Linked DNA regions of Homo sapiens. The protein of the gene in region 1 purifies or fractionates together with the protein of each later gene. This does not show direct contact. Each region holds a gene or a part of one and is shown on either strand. Other genes may lie near its edges. The genes, in order: RHBDF1 and TNFRSF13B.

Evidence for each region.
Region 2: the proteins of RHBDF1 (region 1) and TNFRSF13B purify together in Homo sapiens (co-immunoprecipitation; one large-scale study listed by IntAct). This does not show direct contact.

Annotation. Positions count from the first base shown.
Region 1 is NC_000016.10:70,424-74,330, reverse strand, and holds the start of RHBDF1 (inactive rhomboid protein 1), read left to right. Parts: upstream 1-1,699; 5' UTR 1,700-1,818; intron 1,819-2,125; exon of another isoform or gene 2,126-2,667; coding exon of another isoform or gene 2,668-2,805; intron 2,806-3,907. UniProt on the Homo sapiens protein: Regulates ADAM17 protease, a sheddase of the epidermal growth factor (EGF) receptor ligands and TNF, thereby plays a role in sleep, cell survival, proliferation, migration and inflammation. Does not exhibit any protease activity on its own.
Region 2 is NC_000017.11:16,961,959-16,965,765, reverse strand, and holds part of TNFRSF13B (tumor necrosis factor receptor superfamily member 13B), read left to right. Parts: intron 1-3,807. UniProt on the Homo sapiens protein: Receptor for TNFSF13/APRIL and TNFSF13B/TALL1/BAFF/BLYS that binds both ligands with similar high affinity. Mediates calcineurin-dependent activation of NF-AT, as well as activation of NF-kappa-B and AP-1.

The DNA.
Region 1 (3,907 bases):
TCCCCAGCTTTCCAGAGAGGACACCACTTCTGGCCCTGCCAGCCTAGTCTGGGCATCCAGGCCCGATAGGGCTTGCTTATCCCTGGCAGGTCAATAATGCTAAGCATGGAGACTGTCCTGTCTCTGGCTGTGAGCCTGGCATGGGAGGGGTGGCACGTGCAGGCTATCGGAGCACTGAGTGTTGGCACTGGGGCAGGCTCCCTCTCACCCGGTGTCCGTGATGCACTGGCAGTCATCCCCTGGTGGAGTTACCCTCCACCCCCTCCAAAGCTTCCATTGTCTCCTTCTACATGAGAATTGTGTTGATATTGCTTGTGTTCAGAGAGCACCCATTATGTGCAGGCACCGCCCTATCCCGTGGCATGGACAAGGATATGGGCAGGGGAATCTTGCCCAGGCTCTGGGATCTACCGGTAAGTGTACCAGCACCTTTAGTTCAAATTCTCCCCTTTTCTGTCTAGCCAAGGAGCAGGCCATTGTCTGCGTCGGGCCCTCAAGTGCAACAGCTCAGTTTGGAGAGGGCTGGTGCCACCCAGACCCAGAGGATGGCACTGAAGCAGCAGCACCTTGTGACCAGCACAGGGCCTGAAGACACATTTGTCCGAGGCATGGGGGGGCACCCTGTAGAGGGGTCCTTAGGGACCCATGGGACGAAGGGATCCCTGCACCCTCTATCCAGAGGAAGCCTTGGCCACCCACCACTCAGAGCTCCTGGACAGCCCTGCCCGTACTCTGCTGTTGGCACCCCTGTCCCCCACCCTGGGAGGGTCAGCCCACCCAGTGTCAGGAGAGAAATGCTGGGAAACTCTCACCAGCAGCCCCAGCGGAAAGCAGAGTGCCATTTTGAGTCCAGCCCAGATTGTGCAGGGATATGAGCCCACCCCGGGGTGGCCGCTGAGCTCTGAGACAGTGAGAAGAGCCCAGAGTGGACACCAGACACTGCGCTGCCTCTGCTGAGTGGCTTCGGGTGGGGCCGGTGCAGCCTGGCCTGAGTGCCTGCTGGTGGAGCGGGGCTTCTGGGGGTAGGGGCACAGGGCAGGGGGAGGGGTAATGACTGTGGTCCTGAACTGAGTGTGTGCATCGGTGTGTACACGTGTGTGTGTGCACGTGTATGTACCCATGAAAGATGTACATGAGTAGGTGGGTGCATGTGAGCACGTGCATGTGCAGGCGAATGAACGCATGAAGTGGAAGGATGTGGGGACGTGTGTGTATGATTGTGAGTGATCGGTGCACATGAATGTGTGTGAGGGAATGTGAGTGCTTAGTGGGATTGGGTGAGTGTGGGATACAGGACTTGTCAGCGTGGGCCTCTGGAGGAGGTCGGGTTTAGGGGAGCCAGGGATACACACCCATCCTCCGCCCTTTACCCCGTGCCTGCTCTCCCTCCTCACCCTCTTCTCAGCACAAATCAGGGCAGGACAGCTCAAGCCTCAATCTGGAGCCAGGGAGAGGCGGAGCCGCCCAGCGCTGACACTGCGGTCCGCTCCCACCAGGTCCTCCGTCGGGCCGAGGCGCTGGAGACCCCAGCCCCAGGTGTCCCCGCAGGCGGACCCTGGGGAGAAGGGAGCCCGGCGGCCTTCCGGGAGGAGGTGACTTGGGCCGGGCAGGCGGGCGGCGCGCATTCCTGAGCTCTGAGTCAGCGCGACCGCCCCGCTCCGGCCGGGCCCGCCCCCGGGCGCACGCCCCTCGCTCCAGGGCATTCCCGGGCGGGCCGGACCGGCGGGCGGGCGGGGACTCGGCGCGGGCCCTCCCGGCCAGCGGCGGCAGCCTCCTCCCCGGCGCCCTCAGGACCCCCCAGAGCCCCCGGCGGCGGCAGTGAGTGAGCGCGGCCGGGAGCGCAGGGCTCCGGGGGCGGGCGGGTTCCGGGGCTGCGTCCGGAGGGCGGGGCGAGTCCTCAGCACCCGGGGCCGGAGCTGCTCAGAGCGGCCGGGGCCGTGTCGGGGCCGGGGCCGGGGCCGGGGAGGGGTCGCGGCGAGGCCCCCCCGGGGCGGCCGGGCTTTTCTTCCTGGAGTTTCCCGAGTCGCCCGCGGAGGCGGCCCAGCCCCGGATTCCTAGCCCGGCGCGCCGCAAAAATAGCCCGTGGCCGGATTAGCAGCCCCAGCGGCCTGGCCGGGCGGGACAGCTCGGCTCCAGCCCCCGCCCAACAGCTGAGGGTCCCAGGAGCGGGAGTCTAGAGTCCGGGGGTGCCCCAGGTTCCTCTGAACTCCCCCCGCTGCATTTTCCTTCCCGGCCACGACCGGCGGGTGGTGTCTCCGAGCTGAAACTCCAGCCCAGGGCGGGATGGTCCCTGTCCCGGCTGCCCTCACCGATGGGAATAGCAGGAGCCGTGGAGCTGGGGGTGGGGGACTGACTCCGCCTTCTGCCCCACGACACTGACTCCCCCATCTGTACACTTCGAAGCTCCAGGGTGGGCTGGGAGCGACTCCCGAAGACAGACTCTCACTCTGTGCGCAGAGGCCAACGGGGACAGGCCTTCTCCCGGCTGGGGTGACAGCCAGACCCCAGATGCTCAGGGCATTGGCAGAGGGCCTGGTTGTCTGTCATGCTGGGGGCATGTTTGTGGGGCTGGGCGGGGAATGGGCAGGGGATCTTCCCTGGCCCCCCAGGGCCTGCTTCCGACCGAGGTGGTCCTGACCAGAGTTTCTTCTGTGTGTGCCGCTTGAGATGGTGAATGTGTGTGTCTGTCCCGGTGGGTGGGGCCTAGGTCTGGAGGCCCTTCTCCTATCCTGGGAACTCCCACCCGCCAACGGGACTTCCTGTTGGAGACCGGGAGAAGATTCAAGGATGAAACTGGCTTTTCAGGTTTGACCCAGCTAGATGCCTGGGCAGTCCCAGGCTCGGTTCTCCTCACCCCTGTGGAGCTAACCCCAACCTCCTAGCCCCGACCCCAAGGGTGGGCAGAAGCTGGGGACCAAGCAGCTGGCTGGGGCTCAAGGGGTCCCTGAGGCGGAGCCCCCTGCCACCAGGGGTCATTCTGGGCAAGCCGGGCCCCTTTTCCTGAGAATGGGGCAGGGGCAAATGGAGTGCATGGGAGTCTGGTGGTGCCAGATTGAAGGGGCCTCAGACCCTTTCCCAGCCCTTCCAAGTAGCTTTCACTGGCTGGGTGGCCTCCGTTGCACAAGCAGGCCCCTCAACCAGCACCCCTCATGAGCTGGCCGGTCCCCACCTTGGGGAGCTGACTTTCTAGGGTGCGCTCTTGGTTTAGGGGGAGTCGTCCAGGTCTCCCCTGCCTTTCAGGGACCATCAGGCCCTCCCCTAGGATCTTCCCAGCTACAGTCCCTGCCCAGGGCACCCCCAGTTGCTCTTGGCTGTGAGGGCCTCCGCCACACCGGCTCCAGTTCCCCCACCTCAGTGTCTGTGCCAGGATCACATTTTGCCCAGTGATTGGATTCCTTGGCTTCTGCCTTTTTTTCTGAGTTGGACGATTTTGGGGGTGAGTCCTTCCTTCTTCAACTGAGATGCCCCTGATGGAGCAGGTGGCAAGGGGTCTTAGAAGGGTCTGACAGCCGTCCACAGCCACAAGGCTGAAGAACCCAGGTGGTCTGCCTTGTCTTCTGGGGGTCTGCAGACAGGGTCCCTTCCACTGCAGCTCCTGGGCAGACCTGGCCCAAGGCTTTGAGCTCCCTTATAGGCCCTGGGACCTTAGGCAGTGATGGGCTTCTCTGAGCCTCAGTTTCCTTATCTGTAAGATGGATACAGAGGACCCCTCCCAGGGGTTAGACAGACCAGTGTGATCAGTCAGGATCTGGTTTGAGGAAGCTGAGCCAGGCTGCTGAGGACCGAAGCCATTTCTGCTCTGACTTGGTTTCCCTCCTGTGGCCTCTCTAGTCCTATCCTGCTTCTGGTGGGTCCTGGGAGGGGGTTGCAGGGTTGCTGAGCCCAAGGGTGCCTGGGCACCTGGGTG
Region 2 (3,807 bases), on another chromosome or scaffold:
AATTATTTCCTGTGCTCGTTTCTGGCCCAGTCACTTTGTGCCAAGAATCCTCTCTCCCAAGTGTTGAAAGCAACACCCAGGACTTTCACCTTTCCCCACCAGGCCACCTCTCCCTGCATCCTCCCTGGATGGAGGAGATGCAGGCAGGGAGGGAGCTGCTGCTGAAACTCAGTATGATCCCTGCCCAGCTGTCTATCAGCACAGTGCAAGAATGCGGCTTGCTTTTCCTTCCGCAAGTCTTTACTGAGTACAACTATATCCAGCTACTGATTAGCATTTATCCAGCACCTGCTGTGTGCCTGCTATCTTGGAAGGCACTGGATTCAGAGACAAATGAGACAGTACGGGGAGGCAGAATGGCTATACCCTGAAATGTCACATTACCAACAAGAAATGTCACCCAGCAGTGGGTTCTGGGAGTTCAGGTTCTGGGGGTAGTTCCCCCAGCCCAGAGCACTAATTTGATGCTACTATCATTATTAATGATTATCATTGGCTGGGCACAGGGGCTCACAGCTGTTGTCTTAGCTAATTGGGAAGCTGAGGGGAAAGAATCACTTGAACCCAGGAGTTCAAGGCTGCAGTGAGCTATGATTGCACCACTGTAATTTTGTAGAGACAGAGCAAGACCCTGTCTCTACAAAAGAAAATGTTAATTATCACTAATATTAAAATTATTTTACATTATTATAAATTATTATAAAATGATAACTATTAACCCATTATATTTCATACTATTTATATCACTACTGGTAGTTATTATACCAGTAGCAGCAGCCATGTCTTGGGCCAGTTACATGCTTGTCATGTACACACCCTTGAGAAGATCTACAAAAGAAAGTCTAGAGTGTCCATTTTACAGGTCAGGAAAACTGAGGTTGTGCACAGCCAGAGTCCTTCCCAAGATGACTCAGCCGTGCTTTCCCCACCACGGGCACTTCACTCCGGCACACTCTGGGTCACTGAACCATGGCGAATCCGTTTTCAACATGAGCTGGCAGGAGGTGAAAATTATGATGGGTAGAAGTGGCTGTCCCCATTTCACAAACAGAAAACTGAGAAGGTGACTTGACCAGTTTTCCCAGGACCTAACTAAGTTCTTCTTCCTTTAGAACCAGCATGGGAGGCCGGGCGTGGTGGCTCACGCCTGTAATCCCAGCACTTTGGGAGGCTGAGGCAGGCAGATCACCTGAGGTCAGGGGTTCGAGATCAGCCTGACCAACATGGAGAAACCTCATCTACTAAAAATACAAAAATTAGCCGGGTGTAGGGGCACACACCTGTAATCCCAGCTACTTGGGAGGCTGAGGCAGAAGAATTGCTTGAACTCGGAAGGCAGAGGTTGCAGTGAGCCGAGATCTCACCACTGCACTCCAGCCTGGGGAACAAGAGTGAAACTCCATCTCAAAAAAAAAAAAAAAAAAAAAAGGCATGGAGATGGTGGACTCTCAACCTTGAACATCTCTGAAGGTTCATTCTGAGTGGAGGTGGGAGCAGGCAGGGGGGTCTTAGAGCCATTTTCAGTATTTCAAAATAGCCCGGGGAAAAAGCATATACAGCTCACAGAAACCAAAAGCCATCTTTTCCTCCTCCTCCTTCCTTCTCTCCTTCTCTTCCCTGTCTTCCTCATCTCTCTTCTTTTTCCCTTCTTCTCCTCTTCTGCCTCCTCTTCCTCATCCTTCTTTTCCTCCTCCATTTCTTCCTCCTTCTCCTTCCCAGTTAGCAGAAGCCAGGTTGTAAGGTCACCATCCATTCCCATGCACATCCCTCAGGTCTCAGGCTGCAGCCTTATCGGGGCACACACCCTATCTCTGCACGCTGGAATCCTCTCCTGCCCCTACCCCACTGGTGAGCTCAACTCATAGCCCCCAGCCCAAGTTTGCAGTCAGTGTTTGCTTGAAAGACTGGATGAGAAAGGCCGGGCTCTGTGGCTCACGCCTGTAATCCCAGCACTTTGGGAGGCCGAGGCGGGTGGATCAGGAGGTCAGGAGATCGAGACCATCCTGGCTAACACGGTGAAACCCTGTCTCTACTAAAAATACAAAAAAATTAGCCAGGCGTGGTGGTGGGCACCTGTAGTGCCAGCTACTCTGGAGGCTGAGGCAGGAGAATGACGTGAACCCAGGAGGTGGAGCTTGCAGTGAGCCGAGATGGTGCCACTGCACTCCAGCCTGGGTGGCAGTGCCAGACTCCGTCTCGAAAAAACCAAAAAAACAAAAACAAAAACAAAAACAAAACTTGATAAGAAATTCCTCCTATCTGCCAAGCTTTTACTGTTCCTTCTCTTTCAGTCACATCTACAGGTTTTCTTGGTGAAATTGTAAAGGGCAAGAATGAGGAGCCCACCCATCGCCCCAACCCTGCTCCTTCACTCCTGCACAGACACCTCCCCACCAAGGAGGAAAAGAGGGAGTTGGCTCACGCCAACAGGAATTGGCCCCTAAAATTTTTGTTGTCTCGATCCAGGTGTAGGCCTTGTCCAGCACAGCACTCCTTATCATAAGAAATGGCAATATTAATAAGGGCAGCAGCTCAGGGGGTTGTCTTTACTAACGTGCTCAATACCATACTAGGCACCTGCCATGCATATGCTGCTCACAGTGATTCTGTGAGTAAGCAACAGCATCCTCATCTTACAGGGGAGGACGCTGGGTGTCCAAGAGCAGAAGTCGTGCCCAAGGTCACACAGCAAGGAGTACCAGCCCCATGACTCACAGCCCAGGGTTCCAAGCAGGGCTGCCCTGTGGCTTTCCCCAGGCTCATCCCCAAAGTGGCTCAGAATCTGGTCCACTCCCCCTGCTGGTCCTTGACTTGTCCATTTTAGACGCTCTGGATTGATTCCCCACTTTCTAAGGTGAGAACTTAACTTGGACGTCACTATCTGCATGCATGCAGCTTCCCCTCCCCCGGCCCCCGGTGAAGGAGGGGTGCGTTTTCAGTTGGAGTCAAGATAGACCTGCTGGCTGCCGGCTCTGCTCCAGAATGTCAACTCCTCTGCAGTTTTGTTCTTCCCCTTCTCCTTGCTCTCTCCTAGAAAGCCTGTTTTTGCCTTTGCTCACTGACAATGGTCTAATGGCTCTCACAGTGAGTAAACTCTTTTACAGAAGGAATAATTCCACATCTCCACCTTATTTGTTGACTCAGATGGCTCATTTATTTATGACAATATAAATATTGCCCACAGCTGAGCTGCTGTACATGTCCTATGATTACCTTTCTTTTCCTTTCTTTTTTTTTTCTTTCTTTTTTTTTGGGGGGGGAGACCGAGTCTCACTCTGTGGCCCAGGCTGGAGTGCAGTGGCACAATCTTAGCTCGCTGCAACCTCTGTCTCCTGGTTTCAAGTGATTCTCCTGCCTCAGCTTCTCAAGTAGCTGAGATTACAGGCATGCACCACCACACCCAGCTAATTTTTGTATTTTCAGTGAAGACAGGGTTTCACCATATTGGCCAGGCTGGTCTCGAACTCCTGACCTCAAATGATCCACCTGCCTTGGTCTCCCAAAGTGATTGGAGAACAGGCATGAGCCACCACACCTGGCCTACCTTTCTTTTCTCAGTAATGTCTTTTGTTTCCCTGGAGTTGGTAACTCCTCTGTTTTCCATGCAGGTAATTCATCTCCAGCTCTGGGACAAATCCACCCTGTCAGTTGGTCAGACATCCTCACTTATCACTTCTGTATTTTCACTGGTGACATTTACCCTTCTTCCATTTTAGCTGGGATAGAGTACCCTCTAGACCTTCAAGCAGCTGTCACTGGGGAAGTCCTTCACCATCATGCTGAGAATGTCCATCTTCCTCTCTGCTG